5 separate regions of the Homo sapiens genome follow, and regions 1, 3, 4 and 5 are each linked to region 2. Evidence: fine-mapped expression QTL. A gene starts in region 2. Each other region holds a variant in brackets. All regions are shown on one strand. Distances are between the middles of the regions.

Region 1 (5,103 bases), 30 kb after region 2:
GGAATTCTCTGCCTACTTCAGAGTTTTTTAAAGTGTGGGTGGTAGTGTGCTAGAACTGAAGGATTTCAGAGTCAGAAGAAATGGTTCTTATTCTAACTCTACCTTCCACCTCTTGGTTCCCTCATCTTTAGAATGGGAATCTGTTGGGATGATGAGACCCAACACCAGGTCACGGGGGCGGCAAGTCCAGCGGAGTCAAAGGAATGAGAAAGAGACAGTTCGAGAGAGAAAATGGGAGCAGGGCGCTATCGCGAGTGTGGAGGCTGCGAAGGCCCCGAGTTCTGGGAGCCCACGCTATTTATTGGTGATCTAACAAAGAAACAGGTGGTGAGGATGTGGAGGTTGAAAGGCAACAGTGTATCAAATGAATGAGAAACATATGGCTACTTGAGAGAATGGCAGTGCTAGAAGCAAGGAGCCAGCAAGTCTAGCAAGCCCTGCCTCAGCTTTTCTCCCAACGCTGAGCTTTTCTCCCAACAGGAATCATAAAAAACTCAGAGGCTAGTGAAAGGTTAAAGCAGGTGGTCCACACCAGCTGCAGAGTCAAAAACAAAATACGCATCTGCTGCCATTTAGAAAGAGGACACAAACTCAGGCAAGACTTTTTCACACGATGACCCATGAGTGGGGCCTGGCTGGGCCTCCCCACACATACCTGCTGACCTCTGAATACAACATACACTTCGGGACCAGGTGCAGTGGTTCACGCCTGTAATCCCAGCACTTTGGGAGGCCAAGAGGAATGGATCACTTGAGGTCAGGAGTTTGAGACCAGCCTGGCCAAAATGGCGAAACCCCGTCTCTGCTAAAAATACAAAAATTAGTCGGGCGTGGTGGTGGGTGCCTGTAATCCCAGCTACTCAGGAGGCTGAGGCATGAGAATCACTTTGAACCCAGGAGGCAAAGGTTACAGTGAGCCGAGATCGCACCACTACACTCCAGCCTGGGTGCCAGAGCAAGACTCCATTTCAAATACAAATACAAATAAAAATAAACATGCTTTAGGGGACTTGGATGAAATTGAAAATGCCCTTTTTGACTTTGAACAGACTTGGTGACTTGTTAAGAAATCTTTGAAGCTTTAAAGTTATGGTAAAAATAAAAATCCATCTTCCTTTTCCTGCATAGGTTATTCAGAATAGGCTGTTTTGACAAGAAAGGCTCCCCAGATTTCCAGAGGGAAGGGTCCAAGCTGCCAGTGTTCACCCAGCACCAGGACTCATGCCCTGCCCCCAGGAGACCTCCCCAGGTCTGCACCCCTCAACTCCGTGCTGACTTGGTAGAGCAGGAGACCAGGGTTCCTGAGGGGCCAAGGCCTCTCCGCAGGTCCTCGCCTGCCTACGTAGATCCGCCTCCCACAGACTCAGTCTGCCCCAGATCCCCCCAGCCCAGGTAGAAAGGAGCCCCGGGTCCTCACTGGCTCCCTAGGTGGCCTTCTCGGTGCGGTGGGCCAGGCCCTCGGCAGCCAGCTTCCCCAGGCCTCCCAGCATCGTGTGGCAGCAGACAGTGGCAAACTAGGATGCTGAGGACTGGCCCAACATGCTTTTATAGCTGCCTCTGGTGCCTGTCTAGGCTCTGGGGCAATAAGCCCTCACCCCAGCCCAGTAGGAGGCTGGACAGGTGAGTCAGTGAGGGCGGCAGCAGGAAGGGGCTGGGCGGAGCCACCCTGGAACTAGGGTGGCAGCATCCCCTGACAGCATGAGGCTTCTGTAACCCTGTCCTAGGGACCCCGTGAAGGATAGGGGCAGGGAGCAGGGCTGGACAGTAGAGATCTGGACATGCTTCTTCCTTGAGGCAGAGGGCCTGAGTGCCAGCCCCCCTGAGACCAAAGCTTCCCAAGCCTGGGTACTGATATGTACCTGGAGACAAGGCCTAGGATTCCAAGCCTGCTGCTCAAGGTCCCCAGTGTGGCCTAGTAAGAGGTTTGGGGGTTCTATGGGCCTGGAGACCTGGGCAGTCCTTTGGGTCATGAACACAAGTGGAATGAGGGTGACTGCCCTCCCCATTCCTGGAGACCCTGGCTCTGCAGAGCAGTTTGCGGCCTCCATGGGACAGGGTGGGCCGTTCAGGGTGGTGCCTTGCCTGAGTCAGAGGGGGGCACAGCACTGGGCAGAAGCGTAGTCACCTGGTGTCACTCAGCTGATGCTCACTCACCCAAGAGGCTCTGTGAGGTCAGCGGTGCCCTCCTATCCCCTGGCAGTCCTGGAGGAGTAGACAGAGGCCTCCACCACCACTCAGGGAGATGCTTCTGGCCTTAGCTAGAATCCCCTAGAAAGCAGCTTCCCTGGCTCCTGGTGCATCGCATGAGGAGTGGCAGGGCTGCTCCCTAGTTACTCATGATGGACAGACATGCCTCAAGCCACCTGCCACATGCTGCTTCCCTTAGTCACCAGCCCAACCTGAGCCTCCGTTTCCTCATCTGTAAAATGGGCATAGCGTG[C/T]CTTCTTGGCTGTGTCCCTAATCATCCCTGAGACAAAGCATGCAAGCTCCTGGTAAACACCTGTTCCCTCCACTCATCATTGAGGTGCCCTTTGGCAGTGAGCTCTGACCAACCGGTAGGGTGTGCCAAGGAGTGACTGGGACGTGAGGCTGCCTTGGAGCCAGAGGGCTGGGGAATGTGACTTCTGCTGGCCAGGAGCCAAGGAGAGGTCTTCCCATGCTCCTACTTCTGGGGTGCAGGCCTGTGGCAGGGGTCCGAGGCTGTCTCCCCAATGCAGGCTCCTGGAGCTGCTCTCCTGGATGTGTCAGGGCCTGATTAGTTTACTGGACTGTGGGCCCTCCCAGCCTGGGACTCTGGAGCTGAGACCCTCTTGCATTCCTGCATGGTGTTTGCGGGCTCCAGGGCTACGGCCAGTAACCCTAGGGTGGACAGTGGGTATCGTGGGCAGCAGGACCTCTGGGTCTCAAGACTGTGGCCCCACACATGCCATTGCTGTCTCCTTTGGGCAGGGGTGAATCGGGGCTTCAACAATTTAGAGGGGCCTCTTTATGAAAAAGAATACAATAATATGATTCTTGCACATTTTTCATTTATATACGTATGAACTTCTGGACCCAGAAGGGGCTGTGAAAGTCGGGGGCCTGGAGCTCAGGCGGGTCCAGATGACCCTGTCCTCCTTTTGTAACAGCCAGAGTCCAGGATGCTTTGCCCAGGGCATTGGGCTGGCACTGCAGAGGCCTGGGGGATGGGGCGACACCTGGGACATGGCTGGTGGGAATTGTTCTAGGAAACCTCAGGGATTCTCCCTGGACCTGTCAAAGCCCCTTCCCTGTTTCTTCTGAGGCTGTGTCCCCCCCACTCGCACAAGGGTCCTTTCTATGCCTGCTCCCCTGATAAATGTCATCTGCCTGCTCTAGAATGGCTTCCAGACCCCACAGACCCCCTCCTCATGAGCTCCCACCCTAGGGTACTCTCCACCAGTCCGCGCTTTCAGGAGCTCACCAGACCCAGACAGCCTGTTGTCAGAGCTCATCCACACAGCAGGACCCTGGCCCACTGCCCAGCCCAGAGCCAGGCCCACCACGGCCTCTGGGGACAACTGCCCTTCCCCCCACCCCCTCCACATGGTCCCCTGCCCATGAGACCCTGCCCTGCTAATTTAATGCACTGCCTTGGTGTGAGCACTGTGATTCTAATGACAACACACCATGGCCTTCTGGGTGAGGCTGGGTCCAGACACAGATCCCAAATGCCTGCTGGGGAGAAGGCAAGAGGCCCGGGGAGGCTCAGGACAAGACATGGGTCCCAGGCCCTGGTGCCCTCCCTCTTGGCCTTCCAGCTGCTGCTGCTGTGACCAGATTCCCGTTCACCCAGCCCCGTCCATGGGCCCCAGCAAGCCATCTGTGCCCCACAGAGGGCAGACCCCTAAGAGTGGGACCCCTTTCTAGCCAAAGAACATGAGATAGCCCCAAATCCTCCTAAACATGATGGATCCTGGTCTGAGGGGCTGGGCTCAGGTGACTCCTGCAGGGAACTTCACCTGCCTGGATGAGGTCAAGTGTGAATCAGGTGGGGCCTGCCCTCCACCACCCCATCATGGAAGAGGTCCAGCCCACAGTGGGCCCAAGAGGGCCGCCCTTGGACCTAGGGACCCAAGTCAGCATATCCTGAGTCAGAAGGTCAAGTCCAGCCTCCCCTCAGGCAGGGAGAATCTGGCTTTGACAGGAGCAGATAAATTCTCAAGGTGGAATTTGCCCAACAAACTAGTTTGGCAAGGGACTAGCTGGCTGAATCATTGAGTCGAGGACAGCCAATGTTTCCAATAGCAATTTGCCAACTTAGCAATTACCAATTCTGAAAAACAATTTGTTTATTTGAAACACTTAAATACTTAGGCTGTCTCATGTCTGAAGCATGATGATGCCTTGCGTGATTTAAAGGACAGACGTCACGAATGCCAAGAGTTTTGTGGCGGTCCATCCTGCCAGTGTCTTCTCCCACTTTTGTTCTGTGGATTTGAGCTCACAGTTTATGCTGTGCCCACCGCCTGCCCACCCTAACGAGACTCCTGGAGACTTGGCTGGCCAGTCACCAGAGGAAGAGGGGCCCAGCAGCACGCCAGCATTCACCCACCTGTGGGTATCAGTCAGGCTCCTGGTGGAAGCCAGAGGACATATTCGAATGGGTACTTGAGGAAAGGGGCTGTTCACAGAAGTGTGGACCGAGTTAAGGGAACCAGTAAGAGATGAGGAATGTCCTGGACCAGCAAGAGTGGGAGCTGTTATCTCCCTGGGTCTAGAGGGACAGGAAAGGTGTCCACAGATCCCAAAGAGAGCTGTGGCTGTAGAGGAGGATCATCAGGAGCTGCAGCCATCAGTAGAAAGATGTGGCCACTGCCAAACCAGCAAGGAAGAATCTGAGTGAATAACCACCTCTCCTCTCTCTCTCTCTCTCCCACCTCCTATGACGTCCTCCACTGTGTGAATTCCACTAGGGCCAGACAGTGAGGCACCCTGCTGATGCAGTCCAAGGAGCGGGCAGAGAGGAGCCAGTGGGTATGAAGGGGAAACAGATAAACAGAGAATTCCAGCTCACTCTGCGGGATTTCTGGGTCTGATAGAAACACGGCATTATTATTATTATTATTATTATTATTATTATTA
Region 2 (5,103 bases):
TGGTATTTTCCTTCTGTACTGATGAGAATGGGGACTTCTTGACAAAATCTATCTTAAGTACAATTCCACATGCCCTTTGATCTAAACACAATATTTTAGGAGTCTATCCTATGATGATACAAAGTAATATAAGAATGTTTATTGCAATAACTTCCAATAACAAGCTACCGAAACCAGCCTAAACAACCAAAAACAGATTAAATGAGTAGAGATTGGTTAAATAAATTATGGTACATTCACAATGAAATCTTACACTGCTGTTAAAAAGTATTAATTTTTCCTAAAGATATATTAAATACATATAATTAAAAATAGAAAGAAGACTAGCATTAGACAAAAGCTAGAGAAGTAGGGAAAGTACATATATTTTTGCGTATTCCTAGAGAATTTCTAGAAGCATATACAGGAAACTTAACAATCGTGAGAGAGTTTGGAGAGGACTTTGGCTGGGGGTTCTGGAGTGGTGCAGAGATTTATTTTCACCACTTACTCTTTTGTACTACTTGATTTTCTAGAAGCATATGCAAGATGAATTTCTAGAAGCATATACAAGAAACTTAATAACTGTGAGAGAGTTTGGAGAGGACTTTGGCTGGGGTCTCTAGAGTGGTGCAGAGATTTATTTTCACCATTTACTCTTTTGTACTACTTGATTTTTATCAAGTGCGTGCATTACTTTTTTGCCTTTTAGGTTTTTATTTTATGTATGTTTAGACTTTTAAATTTTCAAATAATCATAGATTGACAAGAATTTGTGAAGGGGTCCCAATATCCTTCACCCAGTTTCTCCACTGTTTACGTTTTACATTCTACAAAACAATATCAAAACAAAGAAACTGACATTAGCACAATGTGTGTTCTTCTATTACATTGTATCACATGTGTAGATTCCTGTAACCACCAAGACACAAAACTATCCCATCATCCCAAGATCTCTCCTGCTACCTCTTTGTAGTCACACTTCCCCACCACCGCCTCTAACGCCTGCCAACCACTAATCTGTTTTCACTGTTTATAATTTTGCCCCTGGAAGAATGTTATACAAGTGAAATCGTACAGTATGTGACTTTTTGAGATTGGTTTTTTTCACTTAGCCTAATGCTCTTGAGATCCATCCATTTAGTTATTTGCATGAATAATGTTTCTTTTTATTGCTGAATATTGGCATAGATGTGTCACTTAGTTTAAGCATTCACTTAGTGAGGGACATTTTGGTTCTTTTCTAGTTTCTGGCTATGATAGGAAGACACAGGAGAAAATCATCTGGACCTAGGAGTTGAGGATGAGTTCATAGGCATGGCACCCAAGTACGATTCATTAAAGAAAGAATTGATAAATTGGACTTCATCAAAATTAAAAACTTTGCCTCTGCAAAATATTCTGTTAAGATGATGAAAGGACAAGCTATGGAGGGGAGAAAATATTTGCAAACTGCATATCTGACAAAGGACTCACATTTACAATGCATAAAGAGCTCTCAAAACTCAACAGTAAAAAAAAAAATCTGATAAGAAATTGGGCAATAGACATGAAGAGACATTTCATGGCCGAGTCAAATCAGCATGTGGAAATATATTTAACATCATTAGCCTTTGGGGAAATGCAAATTGAGATCATGAGAAATCACTGCACACTTATTTGAGCAGTTGAAATAAAAATATAATGATAAAACCAAATGCTAGCAAGGATGCAGAGAAACCAAATTTCTCATCCCTTGCTTGTGAGAATATAACATGATACACACAGCCACTCCCAAAAATAGATTGACAGTTTCTCAAAAAACATGCACTTACCATATTACTCAACAATCACATTCCTGGGCTTTTATCAGAGAAATTATAATTTAAGTTTGCACAAAAAGCTACACACAAATGCTCATAACTGCTCTATTCGTCATGTTTTTATTGGCAGGTAATTTACATACAAAGAAATTCAAAAATCTTAAATTTCACAATTCAATGTGTTTTGTCAAATGCCTGCACTCCTGTCCCTCCCCCACTGTAAGATTTACAACACTCTAGCACCCCCAAAAAGTTATTTCATGCCCCCTTCAGCTAACCTCTACCATGCCACTCCATCCATAAACCCCAAAGCAACTATTAAAAAAAAAAAAAAAAGGCAAAAACCGCAATTACTTTTGCACCAACCTAATACTAGTCTGATTTTTAAATCACAGATTCATTTTCATATAAATGGAATCATACAATGTTTATTCTTTCATACCTGACTTCTTTCATTCAGGAACACGATTCAGAGCTTCTGCTGTGCAGTAGGGGACATCAATAGTTCATTTTCTTTTTATTGTCTGCTAACATTCCATTGTATGGATTCAACCTAGTCTGTTTATTCATTCTTCTTACTGATGAAGTTTTTTTCTCACGGCTTAAGTCCAAGGTGTGTCTTTTTCGTCCAGCCAGGTGGCCCCGGCAGGTCGCTCCTCAGGGACCCACATGGGTCAGGGCGGTGCAGCAGTGACCCACAGGGGCCAGTGCAGTTGAAGTGGCTTTGAAACCTGATTGGAGAAACAGACTGCTCAGCTGTTAAGAACACACAGCGCTCCAGAAAACTGGTGTTCAACACAACGCGTCACTCCGGCTTCCACTGCTGCTGCGGAGAGTCAGGTTCTCCGGCAAGGCCCCGCGCGCCCGCCCCCGCGCGCCCGCTTCTCTGTCCAGGGAACGCCTTTCTGCGGGCGGAGGCGGCTACGAGGGGGCGCTGCGAAAGCGGATTTCCAGGCACGCCTGGCGCCACTAAGCGGCGCTGAGACGGCGCTGCCTCCTGACTGCCGGTTGGAGGCTACAGGGGCTCTGGGGCAAGGGCCGCTTTTAGGAGTTTGCTGGTCACGAGGGGGGACGCGACCTCGTCCAAGATCTGTCTGCAAGGGACCCTTCCCAGCCGATGTGAACACAGCCCGGGGAAAGGGGTCTTCCGGGGAGCAAAGGCAGCCCGGGAAGAGGAGTAGGGGCTGAAACCAAAGGCAGCCTGGGTACCCAGGTTTTCCCAGGGGACAAGTCCCCCAGTTAGCTGGGCACAGGGAGGCATGGAGAGCGGCAGCAACTGCGTTGGGATGGGGCGGCTGCCCCAGGTTGGGGCGGTGACCCATGTTCCACCAGGCCAGGCGCAGGGCTGAGGTGGCTGACTCCTGTTTCACAAGTGAAGACCTGGTCACCCCAGCAGCAAGGCATTCCGGAGTGGGAGAATTCCTGAGTCCTGGGGAGGAAGCCGTGGTTACAGGGCTGTGGCCCTGAGCAGGAGCTGGCTGGCCCAGCAGGGTGGGCCGAGCACTTCAGTCAAGGCTGAGCGCCAGGCACCAGGGACTCAGGTCTGAGAGACCTGATGTACATCCTGCTCCAGAGCAGATCACAGAGATGCGCCCGCATGAATCCCCAGGCTAAGCCCAGAATTCCGTGGAAGATGCCCATGGGCCAGGAACACGGGTAGTCACCGCGCTAGGGCATCACACAGGGCCCCCCTTGGCCAAATACCACGAGGGAACTTAGACACCTGCATGGGGCCATGGAAGTGCCTGCAACCTCACACTCAGGCCTAGGGCTTACCGAGGTATTGCAGATATTTGTGTTCTCAGAGTAGGAGCTTAGGAATCAGTATCTTCTCTTCGCTACAGGGACAGAGATGCAGTGGCCTAGGACACATCACAAATATTTAAAACGATGTCCTTGGTCAAGGACAGAGGTAGCCAAGGCCAGCCTTCTCCCAGGAAACTAACCCAGGACCCCAAAGCACAGAGCTGTTAGGTGGGAGGGAATTGGTCTGTATGTCTCCCTATAGTGTTGCAACACTTCGGCGCTGGGCTCCCTGTCCCAGACTCACCTTCTATACTCAAGCCAGAGGCCTACGAAAGCCGGGTTAAGATCTTCCCCTGCCTGTCCCTGTAAAGCTTCCCCACTGTCTCTGGAAATCATTTGAGCTTCTTAGCCCCACAGCATGAGCCCGCTCTGACTCAGGCCCTGACAAGCTCTTTCTCTTCTGTCTCTCCCTCCTCTGTTGATATGGACACACCATTCCTTTGGCATGTCTAGTACAGACCAGATCCCCTGCTGTTGTTAGCATTCCTCCCTCTCCCTGGAATGTTCTTCCTTATCTGTCTACCTGATAAGCACTGAGTCATCCTGCAAAACTCTGCACAGCTTTCACCTTCCCTGAGGAGCCTCCCCTGGCCAGCCCCACCCTGTTGCAGGCAGAATGCTTGGCGGTGGGTTGCTGACCACAAATCCATTCCCCCTTTATTCCTTGCCAAGGGAATGCTGATTTTGCTCAGGTTGTCAACCCTCAGGGAGGTGACCCTAAACATGCCAAGTCCAACACACTAGCTCTACCCCCTGAGAGCATGAGAACAACACGGATGGGCATGTGCCCGGATCTGGCTTTGCCCTCATGGACTGCAGGTCAGGGGTGGGAAGCTCTTATAGAGCAGCCCCAGGAGCCCTAGGGGCCATCCTGCTGGCCATGCCATGGCAGTGTCAGAACCCCAAACAGCACCTGGGGTGAAGGAGCTACTGAAAGAGTGGAGAGACTCCACTTTGTCCTGTTAGATCTGTCTCAGAAGTATTTTTATTAGGATTGACTGGGTAAGCTTTCTTCCACAGGGAGCCTAAGGGGGCCCAGAGATTCTTCTCAGAATTGGAGGCCATCAAGGATTGGCTCAGGCTCGCTGGCTACTAGGCTCTCCTGTTCCCAAAGTCCATACTCTTGTTTGTTGTTATTCAAAAATATTTGTTGAAAGCCTGCTATCTACTAGGCCCTGAATGTTTAAAAACAAATAAAGTTCCTGCCTTCAAGGGGCTCACAGCTTTTCTGAGAGGACACGTAAACAGATAAAATGTCATTAGGGTGTAGTTCTGTGTAATAGAGGGTGTTCTTAGGTGCTGACAAGAGCATCTACTCTGTAGTTTAAGCAGAAAACAAATGTATGAAAGGCTATTGGACGGCTCACAGAATTCTGTGCGGCACGAACACTGTGTCTCAAATCATGCTGCAGGACAAACTTGGGGCTCAGTATGCTGGACCATGTTGTGCCTTCTCTCCCAGCCAGTGCTGCAATGGAAGAAAAGGAATTCAGCTCCTAGGAAATGCAAAACATTG
Region 3 (5,103 bases), 400 kb before region 2:
ATTAGAAGAGAGTATTCTTGTAGACAAGGATGTCTAGAAGGATACGCAAAAATGAAAACAGCTAATAACACTCATTATGTCAGGCACTGTGGTAGGTAGTTTATGCACATTGTAACAAATTATATACTACACTATCTCAAAATTTTCAGATAAATTTTACTGGAAGTCATAAATCAATACAACAAAATCAGTGTTTTGCAAACATCCACTAAGCATAAAGGTATACAAATTCCCAACCCAGACTGAAAAATAATTCACATAAGCCACACATTAGTGGAAACCTACCCATGGGAGATAATACAACATAATCTAAATAAAACTTTCAGAGACAAGGCATGTGGCTTCTGGACAGCCACAAACTCCCTGACTCTGCTCTAGTGTTTCGGCCATCAAAAGAAAGCCAAGTGGCCTCAGGTCTCTGAAAAACCAAAAAAGCAACCTATGGAAGATGGCGTGGTATTTGAGGAATATTTGAAGTCTGTTGAAAAATGCATCCTGTATTTTTTTCAAGATAAGACTCCCTTGTAATGTCAGGTAAGTGAAGAGCCCTCAGAGACACATGCACACACAAAGAAAAACAAAACGACATAGAATGAATCCCACCAAAATGTGTTATGATGGCAGAATTATGGGTGATACGATCTTCTGTAATATATCTTTTTATTAAAAATAGAAAAAAAGCAGACTTACCCTTGATTATCTATAGCCTCTGACCCAAGTGGTTTGGAATTGGAAAGCAGCATCACTCGACTTGAAGCCATCTTGGCATCAATGGTGGAGTAGGTGGAGATGAGACTCTGGACCAGCTCATGGGTGAGCCCCACCTTGTCCTATCAAGGCCACCAAGAAAGGGCACGTGAGGAAAGCACAAAGATCCTGGAGAGACACTGGTTTCACTCAGTTTCTCAAAATTATCTTAGACACATTTCCTGAGAACCTTTCTTAATGCCACAAACACCAGAGAAGAAAATCCTTATAACAAAGCTTGAAATGGATCCCCATCTCCATTAAACTTGTCCAAAGCTCAGTGAGTATATAACCTGATAACCTAAACACCTAGCTAGAAAAACCTCAGTTCCAGTGCTACAACAGTGCTAGCTTTTCTAACATTTTTAAGTAACCCTGCTTTTAACCCAATAAAATTCAACTACAGAACTAAGAAATAAATATTGGAAATCCACTTTAAAATAATGAGGAGACCACTGTGATTGAGAAAAAGAAAAAGACAAACGAGAGCTGGAAAGCACACTGATTTTGTAGAAACGGAAATAAGCCGTGCAGGTGCCACACTGGCAGCAGTGCCCGCGCTGGGGCCACGGATCAAGGAGGCATGGAGGACAGGACTCTTCTGCTTGGTACAATGAAAAAATGGTATTCTTTTTATTCTACATATTGACAATATGCATTTGGGCCTTTATTATAAGTACAAGAGAAAAATCTTCAATAAATAAAAGCTGAGTACATTACTTTTTTTGATTAAGAAATAGATTAGGAAAGAATAATGAGAGTTCAGAGCAAAGACTCCTGCCTCACTGATGCCTGAAAACCGTGGCTGCCACCAAGGTCAACACAGACAGCGTCTTTGTCATACAGCACACCCTCAACTCCAGAAACAGGCGCATAAACCAGCTGCTCCTTCTTATTTAAACAGCACTTCTTTTGTTATTCAGGAAGAACACAAGGGTCTGGGAGGAAACTGATGTCACTCATGGCAAAATGTTCTACCCCTGGAAGACAGGACCCAAAAAGCCAGCTTCAACTGACAAGAAGTCAGTAAGTATCTACTGTTGACTGGGGGGTTAAAAACGATCCACAGTCCAAGGGCTTAACCCATGACCCTAAAGAAGGGCATTGTGCCACACTGGAACAGTGGCCCTCTAGCTACAAGAGGTCAGAGAAGAGGGATTCGGTAACACCTTTGCAGGCCTACACATAGCTGGCTTACTTTTAAAACCTCCAGCAAGGCCATCTTCCCTTGTTTGGTCATTTTTCACTTTTCCTGAGAAATGAAGCCATCCCAAGAATCCTATGTGCAATTCTCGTATGTTCTACAGCAAGAGAATACCTGGCATGTGAATTTGGCTTTTATTTTTCAAGTGTGCTCCTCTTAAATAACCATAAAGTGACACCTGCAGGTCACATTTGATGTTTGTTTGGATATCCTCCGGGTTTGTCAAATCTTCCATCCTAGAAAAATAAACTCAATCATACAGCAGAAATGAATGCCAAAGTTCCTATACCTCCTTTCATGTGTCAATGACTCATCACACTCTTGTCCATTAAGCACATCACTTAGGAACTAGAAAATGCAGAAATAAGGAAGCACCGTTCACCATCCAGAAGAGGAAAAGGGGCAGGCACACAACTGTGTCTCTAGGCTGAAAGTGACATTCATTCCATAAGACACCAGATGGGAGATGGC[G/A]TCCACCTGGGGTCAGGGAAGAGTGAAGAACACATTCAGAAAATCCATTTCTCGAAGAGGGTGAGCCTGTGCTCTGGGATTTGTACTGTGGCTTGGATTCTGGCAGGTGGAAAAAGGGTATTCCAGGCTGAGAAAATCACAGCACAAAGAAGAGCACAAAGGAAGGAAACTGAAGGCATGCACGAAGGACTCCAGCACCCGGGCATGAAGGCAGCATCACTGAAAACTGAGGCTGAACGTAGGATGGGGCCACATCCTGTAGTCTTAAATGCTTCCAAGTCCTCCCATTTTCCTAAACATCTCATAATTAATTTACTCCCAAAGGCACAGCATCTTTGAGCAATGATATAAGTAGACATTTTCCATCAACTACACTTCTACCCCCACTATTCAAATAGGCACAAAATAAATCCTATCACTGTTCTTTTTCTAGCCTTTTTAGCTTTGAAATATATGGCCCAGGAAGAAAAAGTTTACAATCACCTTTTAACTGTCTGCCAGGATATAAGGGTGAAAAGTTTGCCATGAGAGGCCTAAACTTCATAACTGTAATAAAATGGCCCAGATTGTGGATTTCTTGGTTTTGATATTCTCCATGCACCATTCCAGAAAGGTAGAACAGTTTGGCAACCTAAACATTAAAGGAAAATTAAAAATTAAATTTCAATTAAATTCTCGTCAATACTGCAACAAAATAAAAGCTCTAAACAAGAAGCAATCCTAAGAAGGGAGACTTCCAGCAAAGCCACTGTCCTGAGGCTTCCAGAGCCTTGCTGGATTCTTTCAGGACTTATTAGAACCACACAGAGGCAGACTGCTCTGCAACCAAGCCGGGGCATCCATCTAAGTATGGTGAGGAGAGGGAGGTGAGGCCTCTGAGCACAGAAACGGTTCTGTGGCCGATGGACCACAGCAGTATGGAAAGGAAGGGGCAGTGCCTGGTCCTGTAACTGGGAGAAACTTCTGATGTACTCTATTAAGTCCCGACTCCAAAACACCCAGACATTGCCTGGTGCAGCAGGTACGGAGACAAATGAGATACACCAAGAGGCCCAGAATAACCACTCTCTTGAGGGAAACCTTCCAGAGACTGGGAACACATACACAAAGGGAATTCAGGAGGCAATTCCTAGAGAGACGTTTAGTAATGTCTCTTCAGTCTTTTTGTTTGTTTGTTTGTTTGAGATGGAGTCTCACTCTGTCACCCAGGCTGGAGTGCAGTGGTGCACTCTCAGCTCACTCCACCCTCTGCCTCCCAGCTTTGAGCAATTCTCACGTCTCAGCCTCCCTAATAGCTGGGATTACAGATGCATGCCACCACACCCGACTAATTTTTGCCTTTTGAGTAGAGACAGGGTTTGGCCATATTGCCCTGAGCTCAAAACTCCTGGCCTCAAGTGATCCACCTGACTCTGCCTCCCAAAGTGCTGGGATTACAGGCGTGAGCCACTGTGCCTGGCCTCTTTAGTCTGTTTTTAAAAGATTATACTGTTAGTTTCTAACAATTATTTCTCTTCCTACCTGGTAAACTTCTGTCCAGAACCTGTGTTTTAATCACTTCTTTGTCTTCTTCAGTTGCTTGTTATGCTTGAAGGAGTCGAGGTGGGTGAGAACTCCCAGAATTTTAGGAAAGCCATGTGCTTGACAGATGTTTAGAAACTCAAACATTTCCATTTCAAACCCAAAGCTGGCATCTATAAGCATCAGTACCTACAAGCACAACACATTATTTCTCGAAGAAACTACCAAAACAGACCACCTACACTAGGGGTTGGCAACTGGCCCACGGGCCAAATCCAGCCCATCACCTGTGTTTGTAACTAAAGTTTTATTGGAACATAGCCACATTAATTCATTTACATATTGTCTATGGCCGCCTGTGCACTACAACTGCAGAGCTAAGTAGCTGCAGAAGATATGATCCACAAAGCTGAAAATATTCACTATCTGGCCCTCGACAGAAAAGTCCCACTCCAGACTAAATCAAATGACTACACAGGCATCACCCAGACAGAGAAACCACCACCCTCTGACTTGCTCTAAAAGGCAACCATAAGACAAGGCCACTAGGATATAAACATCCATTTTAAGAATTCTAATGCATGAGAAGTAACTCAGAAAAGGCTGGGTCTAACCTGGCCCTTACCTAAGAAATCCTAATTTAAAGAAATGAAGTTTTCTGTAATGTATTTTTAAGCCAAATAACAGGTCTCTGACATCCAAAGAATGGGAAGAAAGTGATAATCAATGAAATATATTAAATACGTACAGAAAACCAACCCCTTCTTTCAATCTCCTCACAGAAAAAAAAAAAAAAAATCTGTTTTTTTGCTGGGAAGTATACAATGGAAACCTCTAACTTGTATGTTAATTTGTATAACTCAATTGCTCAGAAATATTTGAAATAGCTACCAGTTTAGAATTAAGTAAAAAAACAGAAAGATTATGATGAATGGTAGTCTATAAGAAAATATAAGCAGATAAGACCAATTTTTTTTTTTTTTTTTTTTTTGAGACAGAGTCTCGCTCTGTTGCCCAGGCTGGAGTGCAGTGGCTTGATCTCGGCTCAGCGCAAGCTCCGCCCCCCGGATTCATGCCATTCTTCTGCCTCAGCCTCCTGAGTAGCTGGGACTACAGGCACCCACCACCACACCCGGCTAGTTTTTTTGTATTTTTTTAGT
Region 4 (5,103 bases), 28 kb before region 2:
ACATTTTAAATTAGAAAAAAATTAAAATGAAGACACACACATTAGCCCACACCTACCCAGGGTCAGGATTATCAATATCACTGCGTTCCACCTCCACATCTTGTCCTACCAGATGGTCTTCTGGGGCCGTCATGCACATGGAGCTGTCATCTCCTGTGATGAGAGTGCCTTGTTCTGGAATCCCTCCTGAAGAACCTGCCTGAGGATGTGTTACATTAACTTTTTCTTTTTAATAAGTAGAAGGAGTGCATTGTAAAATAATCATGAAAGTATAGTATAGTAAATACATAAACTGCTAACAGTCATTTGTTATCATTGTCAAGTACTATGCACTGTACATAATTCTATGTGCTAGATTTTATACAACTGGCAGTGCAGGTTTGTTTACACCAGCATCACCACAAACACCTAAATAATACATTGCACTAGGTTGTTGCCAGGCGATAAGATTCTTTCAGCTCCATTATAATTTAATGGGATCACCGTCTGTAGTTGACTGAAGTGTCACACAGCATGTGACTGTATGCATATTCACCTCCTAGAACCCAGACTCATACGAAGAAGTAGGGAATACCCTACTCGCAACCATGTTTTATTTCCTAGTTTCTTCCATTGGCCATTTTCTTTTTCAGGCTGGAGACTTCCCTCCCATCCCCACTGGTGTTCCCAGTCTCTCTGCCTCCTAAGTCTTCCTCTGTTGCTCTCTGGGGACCAGCTTGTGCAGCAGTTTTGTATCACTGTAGGGTAGGGCTTCAATGAGCCCTGTCCTGTGTCCTTCCCTGGCTCACTGCGTCTTGCCTTCCCTTCCTCGCACAGCCCAGGGCCTGACACCACCTCCTGCAGTTGGTCATTCAGGAGCAGGGCACTCAGGGAAGGAGACGGCTCTGCTTCGAGTATAGCCTGGGCACCATCCACAAACGCCTTGGTGTTTGAACTCACCTGTGCATCCCAGATACAGGTATAGTCTCTCCAAAACAAAGGGTGTAGGAAATATTTTTACTTCTCCATCTTTCCAAAGTATCCTTCCCTTAGTATCTTAGCAACCTTCCCCGGAGAGGCTCTTTGGGCTGTGGATGTAGTACCCAGTATCCTGGGCTGCAGATTCATTGATTTTCCATGCTTTGATTGGGTATAATCATGCTCAGAGCTGAGCAAGGTTGGCAGTGAGTGGGCCACTGACATCAGCTTATTCATGATCTCTCTGTGCTCCGATTCTGACATGAACTTCCTTTTCTGTCTCAGAGGAGAGAGATTTCAGGGCTGTGAGCCTGAGGATGGACCAACACGCACGTCAGTTGTGTCTCTGAGGACTAAAGATGGCCAGGACCCAGGACCCCAGCTAGCCTCCGGATGCTGCTGGCTGCTGGGGACCCGTGACCTAAGGCACACCCCTCAACACATTTTCTTTCATTCCTGTCAATCTCCTGTACTGGTGACTGGGCTGGGCCCTCCTGCTGGCCTCCAGGGCCCCACCTGAGCCTCTGGTCCCGGCCTCAGTCAGGCCCAGGCCTAGGGGACCGGCTTCTTGTTTCCTTTCCCGAGAGCTCTCTGGGAGTCCTTACAATAGATTCCAACCCAGGCACTTTTGACAGTGAAAGAAGATTTGTATTATTTTCTTAGGGCTGCCGTAACAAATTGCCACAAACTTCATGGTTTAAAAGAACAGAAATTTATTATCTCACGGTTCTGGAAGTCAGAAGTCCGAAATCACAGTGTCACAGGGCTGTGCTCCCTACTTAGGCTCCAGGCAAGGTTCTTCTTTGCTTTCCTGCTTCCAGTAGCTCCAAGCTTGGCTCGTGGCTCTGATCTCTGCCTCCAGCCTCCCATAGCCTTCTCCTCTGTGTGTGTCTCTCCTTTTCTGTCTCTTACAAGGACTGAGTACTCAAACTTATATCTAACAAAGTACTGGTATCAAAAATATAAAAATTACTCCTGCAATTCAATAATAAGAAGACAAACAACTTAATTAAAAATGGCAAAGTCAGGATGAACTTACCTGAAGATCCTTAATTTAATTACATCTACAAAGCTGTTTTATCCAAATAAGGTTATAGTCACAGGATCCAGGAATTTGGACCCAGACCAACCTTTTGTGGGGGCCACAATTCAACCCACTCCAGGATTTTAATAATAACTATTCCATAACAAAAGACAGAACACCATGACTGTCCCTCCATTCACCTGCATGGCCTCTGAAACCTAAGGACACCTTAGAAGTGGCATCTCTAGCTCGGCGTGGTGGTTCATGCCTGTAATCCCAACACTTTGGGAAGCCGAGGCCGGCAGAGCACTTGAAATCAGGAGTTTGAGACAAGCCTGGGCAACATGGCAAAACCCCGTCTCCACTAAAAATACAAAAATTAGCCAGATGAGGTGGTGCACGCCTGTAATCCCAGCTATGTGGGAGGCTGAGGCAGGAAAATCATTTAAACCTGGGAGGTGGAGGTTGCAGTCAGCCGAGATCGAGCCACTGCACTCCAGCCTGGAAGATA[G/C]AGTGAGGTTCTGTCTCAAAAAAAAAAAGTGTCATCTCCACCACTGGCTCCCTGGGCCACAGACAGGCAGGGAGGAAAAGGACTCAGATCCCTCGTGTGCCTTCCACCGACGGCTTCGCCTCCTCCTCTAACAGGCCTGTGGTCTGATGTTGAGTCCATGTGGCCCCCAGTCTATGCCGGAGGTACTCCCCGGCTAACCCTAGAAGCCAGTTGTATTAGTCCTTTTTCATGCTGCTATGAAGAAACACCCAAGACTGGGTAATTTCTAAAGAAAAGAGGTTTAATAGACTCACAGTTCTTCACAGGGCAGCAGGAGAGAGAATGAGTGTTAGCAGGAGAAATGCTGGGCACTTATAAAGCCATCAGATCTCACGAGACTCACTCACTATCATGAGAACAGCATGGGGGAAACCGCCCCCATTATCCAATTACCTTCATCTATCTAGTCCTAACTTTAACACGTAGGGATTATGGGGATCGTAATTCAAGATGAGGTTTTGGGTGGGGACAAAGCCAAATCATATCAACGATGTTATCCTGTCAGAACTCAAGAGAAGGGTGAGGGCTGGGGGAGGGCCGGGGGATGAGCCCATCTGAAGTGGCCAGTGGAAGCAGTTGGCCTTCTGGAGAGGGAGGCAGGAAAGGCTGGGAGGTAGGTGGCCTTGGAGGCCCAGAGGGTAGGGGGAGAACGTGGGGGTGGAGTGACAGCTGGACATCCCGAGGTAGGGACTGGAAAAGGAGGCCTAGGGAGTTCCAGATGTACCCACCTTTCTCTTTGTAACTTAATGCTGGTTGCATGACCTGTAGGTAACGTTGCAGGGGACTTGGGGTACAGTATGAGCTCTGTGGTTCCCTGCTTTGAGAAAAGGAATCCTCTTTACAAACTTTCTATGTGATTGTGGTGGGGGTAATAATAAAGAGAGCCCCCCACTGCCCACCACAAGGGCAGTCAGAGGACCCACATTGGCCAGAGTGTGTCACACATTGGACGTGCTTATTAGGTTGGGATCAGCACGTGGACAGCAGGGCCAACTAGGGTCCATTGTTAGGAAACTGAGTGCTGGGAGAGCAGTTGTCTCTCCTTCGGCATGTGCTCTAAGGAGTCTGAGCTTGGACCTGCTGAGCACCATAGCTGTCTCCTGGGGAGACTGTGTCTGAAGCTGGAGCCCAACAGAGCCCTGCAGAGGCCAGAGACGGGGAGGGAAAGTTCAGGACCTTGCTTGGACTCCTGGATCCAACCTCACTTCAAAGTCATGGTCACGGATTTCCCAGTTAGAGAGCTCACCTTGAGAGGTGGGGTCTCTGTCCCATCCCCTGGAATCTAGGTGAGCTCTATGACTTCTCTGACCCATAGAGTGAGGCACATGGTGCTGTGCCCGCTTCTAAGCTCAGGGCTAAGAGGCTGTCAGCTTCCACTTCTTGCCTTTCTGATCCAGATGCCATGCTGTGAGAAGGCCCAAGCCACATGGAGGAGCTGTGCCTAGGCCTGCAGACCACAGCCCTCACTCGGTTCCCAGCTGCCAGCTATGTGAGGAAGCCACTTGGGATGTCCAGCCCTGTCGGGCCTTTGGATGACTCAGACGCCATCTGACTAACCCAGGGAGAGACCCCACACAACACCTGCCTGGCTTAGCCAAGCCAACTCCTTCAACTGTGAAAGATGGTGACAAATTATTGTTTTAAGCCACTAGGTTTTGAGGTTATTATGCATTATTTGAAAATAATTAAAATTATTTCAAAAACTGTTTATTGTGACTGATATGGATGCCTAAGGTCCTTGCATAAATGTGTCCTCACTTGATTTAGATGCCAAAATAGGAATCTGCACCTTGAATCTCATCATGAGCTCCATGAAGCTTTGGGTAGCCTCAAGAATTCTAGAGTGCAGGGGCTTAAATTCAAATAACTCTGGCAGAACACTGATGGCCTCCCTCCTCTGGCTGTATCATGCACAGCCTGCTTCAGCTAAGGGGACAGAAGGAGGGAGCCAGCATTTCTCTGAGAACCAATTATAAACACCTTGGGGGAACTCTCATGATCAGTAAGATGCTCTCAGAGCATCGCTTTATGCATATGCTAAGAAGCTGGGGCAAGAGTAGCTTTTTTTTTAATAGTACATTTCATGTAAATTTTTACTGAAGTGAACAGACATATACAAAAATACACAAATTATAATTATATGGTTCGATTAATCTTTGCCAAGGGAACCATGTCACCAGCACTCAGATTCAATAATTGAACATTGTAAGCACCCAAGAAACTGACTTGCACCCTGTGTTGATCATGCCCCCCCAACAGTGATAGTCACCTCATTCTCCAGAGGCCTTAGGCATTGCCTCAGGATCATGGTGGAAGCTTCTCTGGGTGGGGCTGCTTGGGGACCAGCCATCCTGCAGTGGGCCCATGATAAGCACCTGTGGCGCCACACCCCTGGCTAGCAGGCCTGCTGGGAACACCTGTAGGAAGACCTTGGCAGGATCATTGGCCCTTGAGTCAGCTGCTTGCTCAACTTCATGATCAGAGATAAAGGTGAATGCAAGTACTGTGGCCATGCCATGCTTAGGACTCGAGAATGGTGCAGCCTCTCTGTAGGCCAGGGAAGGACCACTAA
Region 5 (5,103 bases), 77 kb before region 2:
GTCCCATCAGCTCCCAAATTTTCCCCTTTGGGGAGAAAAAGTTCCCCACGTTCTATGGCCTGGTACACGCCTAATCCTATCACCCACTGGTGTTAGCAAAGAGTGCAAGGCAGATCACTCCAAAGAGAATAGTGGTTAACCCCATGGTGCCAAATCCACGTTTAACAAAGAGGGACTTTACTGAGGGGGAAGGCCTCCAACCCAATCCCATCCTTTACCAGGTAAAATGAACCCACTACTCACCCAAAGTCAGCCCATTGGTGCTGCGGTCTATTTCCTTTGGATCGGGATCGTAACTAAGCTAAAAGGCTAGCAGATTTAATTTTTTAAGTCAATGAGTCGCATAAGCTTTCGATTTGCCTTTTGTAAAGTCTTTAAATAAAAATACTGAAATCTTTTTAGAAGCTTCTGCATATCAATAGACATCCCTAGATGAGACTAACTTGGGAGCCCTCATTTTCAAATGCACTTCAGTGCAGTTTTGTTCATTTGGAACATTCCACTCTAAGTTATCTTTAGTAAGATTTCACCATTTCTATAAGACTGCTGCTTCCGGGGCCTACCACTTATGCAGGTATTAGCCAGAAGGAACTCAGTTCTTCAGAAATTAAGGATCCAGGCCGGGCGCGGTGGCTCATGCTTGTAATCCCAGCACTTTGGGAGGCGAGTTGGGCGGATCACGAGGTCAGGAGATCGAGACCATCCTGGCTAACATGGTGAAACCCCGTCTCTACTAAAAATACAAAAAAAATTAGCCGGGCGTGGTGGCGGGTGCTTGTAGTCCCAGCTACTTGGGAGGCTGAGGCAGGAGAATGGCGTGAACCCGGGAGGCGGAGCTTGCAGTGAGCGGAGATCACGCCACTGCACTTCAGCCTGGGCGACAGAGCGAGACTCCGTCTCAAATTAAAGAAAAAAAAGAAATTAAGGATTCAATTTTTACCTCAGATTTTGGCTTTGCTCTCAGGTTCCTTTGATCAACCTAGCCAATGATTTTTCTCCTACCAAAGTGCATAAGAAAAATGAAACAAGGCCGGGTGCAGTGGCTCACACTTGTTATCCCAGCTCTTTGGGAGGCCGAGGCGGGTGGATCACCTGAGGTCAGGAGTTCGAGACCAGCCTGGCCAACATGGTGAAACCCCATCTCTACTAAAAATACAAAAAATTAGCAGGGCGTGGTGGTAGACGCCTGTAATCCCAGCTCCTCAGGAGGCTGAGGCAGGAGAATCACTTGAATCTGGGAGGCAGAGAGTGCAGTGAGCTGAGATTGTGCCACTGCACTCCAGCCTGGGCAACAAGGTGAGACTGTCTCAAAAAAAAAAAAAAAAAAAAAAAAAGAAACAAAGGGGTAAAACACAAAAATCCCTGTGAATTTTCAATAGCCTAATTTTACACCCCTGCAATATTACCATTTACTACATTTCTTTCTGACCCAGTCAGATGTAAGAGGCCTCTAACTGTATCCAAGCCAGTTAATTACCAGATCAAATCCATTCCTTGAACCAGCCCAGTTTCTGTCATGACTTCCAAACCCAGTTTGGAACAGAAATTTGCTCAAAGAAACTCGGAGAGCTCAAAACACAAATCAGTGGAGCTCTGACATTGGAGAGAAAACTTACCATGACTTCCAACTGCTCTGAGAGATCAACGAACACAAATAGGTCCTGCAGGTACCTGGCTTCGGTCACTCAGCACTCCTGGGAGTCGTTAGAAGCTCTACTTCAGATCTGCTCTGACACCATCTGATAAAAGAAAAACTTCAGCTGAATTAAATTTAAAGGAGCTTAAGTGAGCAGGCAATGAATGATTCGCGAATTGGGCAGCCTTCTGAGCCAGAGTAGGCTCAGAGACTCCAGCACAGCCACGTGATGGAGGAAGATTTATGGACAGAGAAAGGAAAGTGAGGTACAGAAAACGGAGGTGAGGTACAGAAATAGCTGATTGGTTACAGCTTGGTGTTCACCTTATTTGAACAGGGTTCAAACAGTTGGCTACATTTGATTGGCCAAAACTCATTGATTAGCACAAGTGTAGACTACAGTCTGTTTACACCTCCACTTGTTATAGTTCATGATGTACAGAAAAACCTTTAGGCTGAACTTAAAATATGTAAGGAGGCAGATTTAGGCTAAATTGATTTATTTTTTATTATATTTTTAAGACGGAGTCTCACTCTGTCACTCAGGCTGGAGTGCAGTGGCGTGATCTCGGCTCATCACAACCTCCATCTCCTGGGTTTAAGCGATTCTCCTGCCTCAGCCTCCCAAGTAGGTGGGACTACAGGTGTGTGCCACCATTCCTGGCTATTTTTTGTATTTTTAGTAGAGATGGGGTTTCACCATGTTGGCCAAGCTGGTTTCAAACTCCTGGCCTCAGGTAATCCACCTGCCTTAGCCTCCCAAAGTGCTGGGATTAGAGGTGTGAGCCACCGCACCCGGCCGGCTAAACTTGATTTAACAGTACCTTTTGGGAGATAATTTTTTTGTATAATGGAATAGTTACTCTAATTATAAGCTGCTATTATACCTCATTTGGATCTGGGAATTTTCTCATGTGATGTATGTACACACACACACACACACACACACACACGACTAATATTGCAATATTCTTTTTTGTCTATGTTTGTGTGTCCTTGTAGAACTTTCTATAGCCCAGTCTGGAAGTGTAGGGAAACTGTATCTGTTTCAGAGTGAAACTGCTCTAGGGGATGGGAAATTTTGAGTTTATTATTTCCATGAGAAAATGGAATGGGGCTTCTTTTGGGGGAAGATTTAAAATTATCTGTGGAAAAAAGTGAGTTGGACTTGGTAATGTAAGATGAGAAATTTTTCATTATTATATTCAATGAGATAGATACAAATACTGGTTTCCTTAATATTTCTGAAATTGTATCATTGACTATGATAGATGAGACTACTGTTCAAACATATTCACTCTTCCACCTCTCCATTTCACT[G/A]GAAGAGTGTAGTTACTGGTTCTATTAATGTTGGGCATGGCTCTGACTTGCTTTGGCCTCAGGGTAGGTGGGGGACAGTTCTTTGCCTCTCGACTGTGCTCAGCCATGTAGCTTGCTTTGGTCAATGGATGTTAGCAGATGTGACTCACGGAGGAATGGAAATTACCTTGCATAGCTGGGCTTGTCCTCTTGAACTGCTGCCATCTCCATGCATAACACTTCTTTGAACTCCTTCAGCCTGAGCCCCAGATGGAATATCAGTGGAGAAGTTTAAATCTCAGTGAGGAGCCAAGTCCAGTTGGACTCATAGCTTGAAACAGAGCTGCCCCATTGAGCTCGCCTAGGTCAGCTAGCCCCAGCTGACCTGCAGTCATGTCAATTGTATGTCACTAAGATTTTGTGGCTCTTTTTTACTCAGCTTTAGCTAACTAATATATCACCATATCAGGGAATTTTGGTAGGACAACATAGCTAAGCACAATTTGAGATGGGGAATAGAATAGGGTAAATTCTCTGTTCAAAGCATATGGTAATCTGGTGCCTATTTTACTTATTATCCCATTTGTGCCCTTTTTTATAACATGTCTTTGGAAGCGAAACTGTACATCCAGTGTCTCTGTAACACTGAGTCTATTGTCCATGTAACATTCAGTCTACTGAACTGCTTTAAAATATTAGTTGAATGACAGTAGACTGAATGAATCTCTGTAGTTCCAGAAGGCAGGGAGAAGGATTGGGAGAGTCGACACAAAGTGTGCAGCCAGGGCTGCGTTGGTATTTTTCCTCTGATGTGCTCCACAGAAGGGCAGCTGACCCACTGTGGGTTGATAATTTCACTGGTTCACAGAAGACAGGGAATATAGGACTTTAGGGAAATAATGTGCCTTTGTCTTTGTCTTTCTCTTATTCTCTATCAAGGGGGAAAATGCTGCTCTGGGCTGGTTGGATTCAAGCTCATGGATTGGACCATGGGATAAAGTTTTAGTGGCAGATGGCTACTTCCTTGAAATAGAGTGGAGAAAAAGGGTGGCAGCATTGGTGAGAAGGGACAGGCAGGAGGCAGTAGGGAAGTCCAGCTTTACTCTGGAGAGAAGAAGAGGTGGGGGTGGGGAGGGCAGGGCCAGCTGTTTGGGGTGGGAGGCAGGGAAGGTGTTGGCTGCCCAGTTGACATCTCTTATCTCTTTCCTGGGGCCAGAGTAGGTTATTTTACAGCCCAGCCTCTTTATGGCCTCAGCAGAGAAGCAAAGGCAAACAAAGAACAGGTGATCCCTCAGGGCCCAAGGAGACGCCTCCTACAGCAGGTGTGCCCACTTCAGCAGCCCTGCTGGCCAGAATCTCTACTTAGAAGGCTTCTGGGAAGGCCAGGCCCTTATCGGCTTCCGACTTTGAAGTCCTAGGAACCCTCCCTCACACCTCCCTTCTATGTGGCTTTGAAAATACTTTGATATTCTATCCCTATCCCTTAATTATTTGAACCCTCACCAGTTTGTAATGAGCCTGAACCCATCTTTGCTCCATTTTACATATGACAAAACTGAGGCTGGAAGCGTTGTTGCCAAGCTTCTTTGCCCTTTGTACCATGGGATTTAATTACATATATTTTATGGATTCTTTCCTTTATAAAGTTGTAATCATTCATTCTTTTTTAATAGAGAGAAATTTAGAAAAGGAAACAAAGCAAAAAATGACCTAAAATCCTATGGGTCAGATAACTCCCGTTGATATTCTTTCCTTCTTTCCCCCAGTTCTATTTCCAGAGGTTACCACTTTCAATTTTTATTTCTGTTTCATTCTATAAAGATGAAGAAAATTTTTGACACCTTTAAAAATATAATTTAAATCATCTTAAACTTATAGAAAAGTTGAAAGTGAGGATAAAGAACATTAATTTTTCTATGCCATTTGAAAGCATGATCCCGGCAATTTGCATGAACACCTTGCTACCGCCTCATCTGCAGGCTCCACTAAAGTTTCATCAGCTGTCCCAAGATACACAGGTTTCATTCTCCTGTCTCTGGTCTCCTTCAATCTGGAATGGTTCTCCCTTCTTTCCTTGACTTCCATGGCCTTATGTTTCCAGATGACAGGCCAGTTATTCTGTAGTATGTCCCTCACCTGGGTTGAGGCTGATGCTTCTTCAGGGTTGG

Direction of the effects. Positions count from the first base shown, and alleles are read on the strand shown. Sizes are in standard deviations (SD) of each study's normalised expression. Not every link is listed here.
For the expression in lung of the gene that starts at base 2,655 in region 2, allele A in region 3 goes with a higher level than allele G (moderate effect, 0.61 SD a copy in GTEx).

The links.
Region 1: its variant is fine-mapped to the expression of LINC00842 in unexposed skin (GTEx, PIP 0.97).
Region 3: its variant is fine-mapped to the expression of LINC00842 in lung (GTEx, PIP 0.98).
Region 4: its variant is fine-mapped to the expression of LINC00842 in sun-exposed skin (GTEx, PIP above 0.99).
Region 5: its variant is fine-mapped to the expression of LINC00842 in sun-exposed skin (GTEx, PIP 0.93).

The regions. Positions count from the first base shown.
Region 1 is chr10:46,365,500-46,370,602 of GRCh38, reverse strand. It overlaps the pseudogene FAM25BP. Among named protein-coding and RNA genes, the nearest start is that of ANXA8L1, 7.7 kb to the left of the region's middle. The variant C/T (reference allele first, on the strand shown) is at 2,441.
Region 2 is chr10:46,395,914-46,401,016 of GRCh38, reverse strand. It overlaps LINC00842 (long intergenic non-protein coding RNA 842), which reads right to left and starts at 2,655. Exons shown (of 4, transcript NR_033957.2): 1 at 2,224-2,655. RefSeq lists an enhancer at 3,780-4,395.
Region 3 is chr10:46,793,756-46,798,858 of GRCh38, reverse strand. It overlaps the pseudogene BMS1P1. Among named protein-coding and RNA genes, the nearest start is that of FAM245B, 56 kb to the right of the region's middle. The variant G/A (reference allele first, on the strand shown) is at 2,423.
Region 4 is chr10:46,423,588-46,428,690 of GRCh38, reverse strand. The region is part of intron 1 of LINC00842 (long intergenic non-protein coding RNA 842); the gene reads right to left. Among named protein-coding and RNA genes, the nearest start is that of LINC00842, 28 kb to the right of the region's middle. RefSeq lists enhancers at 3,286-3,786, 3,787-4,287. The variant G/C (reference allele first, on the strand shown) is at 2,493.
Region 5 is chr10:46,473,114-46,478,216 of GRCh38, reverse strand. No RefSeq gene overlaps it. Among named protein-coding and RNA genes, the nearest start is that of NPY4R, 9.7 kb to the right of the region's middle. The variant G/A (reference allele first, on the strand shown) is at 2,957.